2 linked regions of the Homo sapiens genome follow. The protein of the gene in region 2 interacts with the protein of the main gene of each other region in a pairwise test. Each region holds a gene or a part of one and is shown on either strand. Other genes may lie near its edges.

Region 1 (3,606 bases), on a different chromosome or scaffold from region 2:
GTTTTCACCATGTTGGCCAGGCTGGTCTCAAACTCCTGACCTCAAGGGATCTGCCTGCCTCGGATTCCCAAAGTGTTAGGATTACAAATGTGAGCCACTGAGCCCGGCCCAAAAGCTAAAGTCTTAAAGCAGGAAACAAATGCAACTTTTCCCAGACTCGCCCCTATTAGCTCCATGTAGGATGACTCCAGGCAGGGGTTGGGGGGCACCCCTTAACTCTGGGCTAAGGCTCCCTCAGACCCTCCCATCCAGATGCCATACTGCCCAGGATCAGCCAGAGGCAAACCTACACCTGCAGCAAAACCCATTTGCTCTGAGCAGCTAACAATGTGGGAGAAATAAAACAGGAATAAAACAGGGGACAGGGCACCCCAAAGCTCAGCAACAGGCCTCAGCAGAACCAGGGAAAACCTTGTGCTACTGATGCACCATTCTTCAAAAAACATGAACAGCTCACCAGCCTTCTCCAAGCACCTGCCCAGGAATGGCAAAGAACGAGTGTTGGTTCAACCACCAGGACATTACATGGACCAACAACTTAGATTTCTAAAATGGCTTGCCAAGACTACAGGTGCTAGCTCTAGTCCTGAACAGAAACTAGCCAGCCAGGCCAAGATGGAGCTCTGCCTCCAGCCTCCTCAGCAGAGCACTAACCTCCTGAATGAACCAGCTGTGAGGAACAAGATCCAAGACCAGGCCTCCCCCACACTCCACTAGCAGGAGCAGAATCGCAAGGCAGATCGTATCAGAGTTATGGGCACCCTACCCAAATATCACTCACTTAACTAGTTAAGTGGCTAGTGCCACCTCCAATAGGATGCCAGCCCTATGGGGACAGGTAGGCTCTGCCTTCCTTAACAGTAAATCCCACCCACATGACTTAATAAGAGCTTGGTAAGAATAAATGAAGATCTGGCTGTCCACCTGCCCCACCCTGTGTAAAATCTTTATCCTAGACTTAGAGCACCACTTGGAGCTCAAGACAAGAGCCCTCTGACCTCCAAACTCTCCTCCATCCCCAGGAGTCCACTGTGCATCTTCAATTTAATCCACAGTGCAACAAGGTTACAATAGGAAATCTCTTGTATTTTCATGGCACAACCCTCCTTCATTACCATCAATTTTCATTTTCTTTTTTTTTTTTTTTTTTGAGACAGGGTCTTGCTCTGTCACCCAGGCTGCAGTAGTAGGGCAGTGGCACAATTATAGCTCACTGTAGCCTCGAATTCCTGGGCTCAAACAATCCTCCTACCTCAGCCTCCCGAGTAGTTGGGACTACAGGCCTACACCACCATGCCTGGCTAATTTTTAAATTTATTTTTATTTTTGTAGAGACAAGGTCTCACTATGTTGCCCAGGCTGGTCTCAAAGTCCTAGCCTCAAGTGATCCTCCCATTTCAGCATCCCAAAGTGCTGGGATTACAGGCATGAGTCACCATGCCTGGCCTCATCCTCCTCCTTCTCTCTCCCAAGTTGCCCAGCTACCTCTGGAAAGCATTCCACTGGCTGTGGCTGCCCCTAAACCATTAAGCAAGTGAATGTAGTACTACAGACACTTGTATCAAGACAAAGAATGTCACAGATAGGTGAAATCAGGAGCAAAGAACTAAAGTTAGCATTATCAGTCCCCAGACACCCTAAGTGTGCAGGGTTGGAAATTTCTGATTCACTGCAGAGGTGACTACTGTAAAAGGATGGTCAATGTTTGTCAAGCACTCACTATGCACCTGGCAAGGTCCTAAGCACACTACATTCACTATCTCATTTATCTTCCCAACAGCCTTATGAGCTAGTTGTTACCATTTCATCCTAACAAGGAAAAAAAACAGGTACAAAGAGTTAAAAGGAAGGCTGGGCGCGGTGGCTCACGCCTGTAATCCCAGCACTTTGGGAGGCCGAGGTGGGTGGATCACCTGAGGTTGGGAGTTCAAGGCCAGCCTGACCAACATGGAGAAAATACAAAAATTAGCCGTCTCTACTAAAAATACAAAAATTAGCTGGGCGTGGTGGCACATACCTGTAATCCCAGCTACCTGGAAGGCAGAGGTTGCGATGAGCCGAGATCACACCACTGCACTCCAGCCTGGGCAACAAGAGTGAACCTCCGTCTCAAAAAAAAAAAAAAAAAGAGTTAAAAGGAGATGCTGGGTGGGCGTGGTGGCTCACACCTGTAACCTAGAATTCCTGTGCTGTGGGAGGCCAGGAGTTAAAAGACCAGCCTGGGCAATACAGTGAGACCCTGTCTCTACAAAAATAAAAAATTAGTCGGGCATGGTGGTGTGTGCCTGTAGTCCCAGCTACTTAGGAGGCTGAGGTGGGAGGATCACTTGAGCCCGGTAGGTGGAAGCTGTAATGAACCATGATCATGCCATTGTACTCTGGACTCGGTGACAGAGCTGGCTCTTAAAAAATAAAAAGTTGCTAGGATTGAGGACAGAGGTGAGCCATCCTGGCATCTACACCAAGGCCCACACTTCCTGCACTGCAACACACTGCCTCTACTTAGGGCATCACAGGATGGCTGCTGGATCACAGACCAAGATGCAAGATAACTTGCACGTTCAGTTTTATTTTTCTGTGCTTTAATTATTGGCATTACCACACATTATTAGTTTTCCCACCACAGAGGAACTGAAGATGTACTCCAATTAAATGGCATCTATGGGCTAGAACGTAAATACAATTAAAAAAATTTTTTTTGAAAGAAACTTTTTTTTTTTTTTGAGATGGAGTCTTGCTCTGTCATCCAGGCTAGAGTGCAGTGGCGCAATCTCGGCTCACTGCAACCTCCACCTCCCAGGTTCAAGCGATTCTCCTGCCTCAGCCTCCTGAGTTGCTGGGACTACAGGCGCATACCACCATGCCCGGCTAATTTTTGTATTTTTAGTAGAGACAGGGTTTCACCATGTTGGCCAGGATGGTCTCGATCTCCTGACCTCGTGATCCGCCTGCCTCCCAAAGTGCTGGGATTATAGGCGTGAGCCACCGCACCTGGCCGAAACAAACATTTTATATCCTAGAAAAGGGTGACATGCTAAGAAGTCTGGGCTAAATAAATAAATGAATAAATGAGAGAGCTTCAAAGATACGTTGTCCTGATTTTATAGTAAATCCAGAAAAAGGTAACCCCCAACCATGCATCTACCCAATACCTCTTGTCTCAGGTGAAATTCCCTGCCTCCAGCCCAGACTGCAATGAAGACTAAAAACTGGTCATCATGCTCTAAACTGTCATCTTAACATGCAAAGACATATTAACTGCCCCTTGTCTACCTCCCTCTGGGCCAAATAAATTCAAGTCCTTTCAATTTCTCTGGAAATCATCTCTCAGTTATTCAATCATTTTTATTTTTATTTATTTATTTATTTATTTATTTATTTATTTATTTATTTATTTATTTATTCTGGAGACAGAGTCTTGCTCTGTCGCCCAGACTGGAGTGCACTGGCGCGATCTGCAACCTCTGTCTCCTGGGTTCAAACAATTCTCCTGTCTCAGCCTCCTGAGTAGCTGGAATTACAGGTGTATGCTACCAGACCCGGCTCATTTTTGTATTTTTAGTAGAGACGGGGTTTCAGCATGTTGGCCAGGGTGGTCTTGAACTC
Region 2 (3,606 bases):
GCTGCAGGTCAGCAGGGCAGGGGCGGGGGTGCGGGTTATCCCCTTGCCAAGGGCAAGAATTGCATCCCAGGTTTCCTTACTTCGTGGCTGCCAGCGAGCCCTTTGTCAGATCACCCTGCCCACCGTTCTTAAGTGGCTGGCTCACTTGCTCTCTTGTTCTCTGTGCCCCTGAGGGTCGTCCTGCTGCCATGCTTTACCTTGCTCTGTGCCCATTTCTTCATTTGATTCACTTTCTGCAAGTCTGGGGCTGAAAGTCAAGACTGTGAACTGGTGTGGGCCTGGGGCTGTTGTCACTCAGGGAAAAGCTGCGAAAGAGGCGGAGGAGACTGTGTGCACATCACCGATGACCCCTCGGGATCCAGAGGCCTCCAGCCAGCCTCAGGTACCCAGCGGCCCCATTGTGCTGAGCCTGCCCTACTCTGTATCTCCCCGTATAGATCCGTGGCCAGCTGCAGTCGCACGGCGTGCAAGCACGGGAGGTTCGGCTGATGCGGAACAAATCTTCAGGTGAGCTTTTGTTCTAGTGCCCTCCCCTTCAAGTGGCCAGCCTCAGCCTCCGAATCTCCCTCCTGCCTCTGCCTTCTCCCCCACTCCCTCCACCACCTTCCTGCCACAGCTGGGAATGGGCAGCGTGGGGGGTGCCCTCTCTTCTCTCCCACTCCCCACACTCTCCTCACAGCTCCAGCCAAAAGCCTCTTCAATGGGGCTGTCGGGGCAGGGGTGCAGCTCTGAGCTGAGCTGGGTGCTCCCTGGGGTCAGGGCCAGGGCCAGGCTCCCAGGCACCTCCTCTCTGGGACTCTGAGTATCTGAGATGGTAACCCCCTCCCATACACTCCCTTCCCTCTCCTTTCTTCTCCTTCCTCTGCCCCTCACTTTCCCCCACATTTTTTGGTAACAGCCTCTGACCAGAAAGTAGCTCTGACGTGGTGGTCCCACATGTGTGTCCCAAGGGGGAAGCAGGGGATGGCTCTTATCCAAGGACACATCCCAAGGAACAGCCAGGACTTCCTGGCCTCGCCTGTTCCCTCCCTCCCTCCCTCTTGCAGGCTGCTTGGAGCTGGCCTGAGGTTAGCAGGGTGGTGGTGGGGGGAGTTGTCTCTACAGGACCTCTGCCCAGGCTCCCCAAGGCAGGCACAGTGGGGCCTCACTCTGCCTGGGCTTCTCTCTCCATCTCTCAGTCTCTCCTCCCCACACCTCCATCTCTCTCTCTCTCTCTCTCTCTCTCTCTCTCTCTCTCTCTCTCTTTCTCCCTCTCTCTCTTTCTCTCTCTCTGCCCCCCCCAACTATATTATTCATTCCATCCTCCTATGCATCCTAACGGTTATTCTTTTGAACATTAAGCATGCCCCCCCAAGCCCCTCTCATCCAAGCCCTCCCCATGTATCTGCCTCTAAAGGACATGCTATCCTGAGGCCTCAACCCTGAATCCCTTTCCCAAGCCTGGAATCTTGGTTGCATGTAGGTCTTGCTCTGCATCACCCCAACTACACCACACACGGACAGCTTCTGGGTCTCTCTCTCCACAAGGAGGTGTTCCAGGTGCGGCCTTCTCAATGGCCCTGGGCGCTTCTCCCAGGCACCCATTGATTCTTACCTCTAAGGTCCTCCTGGCCAATCCTGGCCACCATTCTCCTTTTGTCCAGGGGAACCTGGACTGTTTGTGGCTGTAGTCTCCACCCTGTGGCCCTGAGGTGGCTCCCTAGCGAGGCCCGCCTCCCCTGCGCTGCGGTGAGGCTGAGATGAGGTCGTGTCTTTAACCGCCCCTGGTTTCCAATGGGCCAAGAGCCTTCCTAGCCTCGCAGAGCAGCCTGGCCCAGCTTCTCTTTTGCTCCTGTGATTCAACACCTGTTACAGGACCCCTCCTGGGCACCCCTGGCCTTGAGCTGGGCCCGCCCTGGAGTTACGTATTGTGGCTTGTGTGGAGCCAGCAGCCTGCCCACCATCCCCTCCCTCCTTCTTTGGAGGCAGATCTCTCGTATTCTTTCCCTCCCAGCTGCTTCTCTCCGTCTCTGTCACCCCAGGCTGGCTGGGCAGGTCTGCCCGAGCCCCATCTCTCTCTTCCCAGTTGGTGTGTGTGTCTCTCCCCCTACCGACCTCTGGCCTCTGTTTTTCTCCCTCCACCTTCCCTGCCCCACCTGGCCATCTACCTTGCCCCCCACGCCCGCTAGTCTTTCTCTCTCTGATTGCCTCTTTCTCTTTCTTCCTTTTTCCTCTTCCCCTTTCCCTCTCTGCCCCCCGTCCTCTCCCCTCGGGTCCCGCCCCCGGGAACGCCGTGTGTCCAAAGCTGTTGACTAACCCACTGCGTCTGTATCTGAATGCTGTCTCCAGGTCAGAGCCGGGGCTTCGCCTTCGTCGAGTTTAGTCACTTGCAGGACGCTACACGATGGATGGAAGCCAATCAGGTTGCTTTGCCGCACTTGAACCCCCCCCCAAACAAATACTACTTTGTAATCGAGCGCTCCCCATCGCCTGATTCTTATGGACACAGTTCCCTGCCCTGTGGCCCTGTGTCCCATCCCCCCGCCCCCTCTCTCCCCTTCCTGACCCTCACTATCTCCTCTTCCCATCTCTCGCTACCCCACTGGGCTTCTCATCCAGAGCCCACACTCACCACTGGCCCCTTCCTACCACCAGGCACTAGTGCTGCCCCTTCACCTCTCCCAGCTGAGCGTTCAGAGAAAGAGCTGCCAGGGTGGGTTCTTTCACCTAGCTTCCCACTCCCCCGGGGCTGGTGGGGGGGGCACCCCTCTCTGGGGTTAGCCAGAGCCAGGACCTCATTCCACCCTCAGGACCACTGGAAGTCCTGCCAGTGAGGAGCTTAGCTATTGGCACAGTCACTAGCAAGACTCATTTTGTCAGCCCCATCCCTGCATGTGAATTTGGCCCTTTGATTTTCATGCAAGGGGACAGCACTGCTCTGTTGATCTCAAGTTCCCGTCGAGTATGATAGTTTTATCGACACCCTGGCCTCACTTCGCCGCCCCTACCCTTCCTATCACATCTCCACACTCGCAGGAGGCACCACCTCAGGCAGCTCTGTCTTCTCGGCAAGGACCTGTGCACAGTCAGCCCTGGGGGGAGCCTGTCCCCCAAGCCTGGCACGGGATCCCAACTCAGCAGCTTTGGGACCTCCGAGACCCAAAGATCTGCCTGGTCACCCACCCCTGCCCAGATCCCTGGTGTAGGGCACTGGAGAGCAGTTTCAGGGGAGGAAGGGGCAGAGGTGGTAGAATGGGGGATCCCGGCAGAGGCAGCCCTGGGGCCGTCTCCTCGGGGTTGGTAGGCTAGTGCCATGGGCCCAGGACCCAGCCATCCATGGGAAGACGGCCTCATGGCAGAAACTTCCATCTGTTCGAAATGGCTCTTTCTTTTTCCCCTTCTCCAGCACTAGCGCACCTGCGCTCTCTTTCTCTTTTTCTCCCCTCTCCCTCCCCCTCCCTGTCTCCCCTCACCCCCCAAGTGTAGCCTGTGTAGTCCTGGCCCTGGGTGTGGCCTGGCAGTGTCAGGGCCGAGTGGGGGTTTCTCCCCACTGTCCGGCAAGCGTCGGTCAGCCGAACACTGTGTGCCTGGTGGTGTGTGTTCACATGTGTGCGTGCGTGTGCCCGG

Evidence for each region.
Region 1: the proteins of RBM10 (region 2) and BAHD1 interact in binary tests that used the Homo sapiens proteins (3 or more experiments, as listed by UniProt).

Annotation. Positions count from the first base shown.
Region 1 is NC_000015.10:40,447,359-40,450,964, reverse strand, and holds part of BAHD1 (bromo adjacent homology domain-containing 1 protein), read right to left. Parts: intron 1-3,606.
Region 2 is NC_000023.11:47,172,691-47,176,296, forward strand, and holds part of RBM10 (RNA-binding protein 10), read left to right. Parts: intron 1-437; coding exon 438-507; intron 508-2,328; coding exon 2,329-2,402; intron 2,403-3,606. UniProt on the Homo sapiens protein: Binds to ssRNA containing the consensus sequence 5'-AGGUAA-3'. May be involved in post-transcriptional processing, most probably in mRNA splicing. Binds to RNA homopolymers, with a preference for poly(G) and poly(U) and little for poly(A).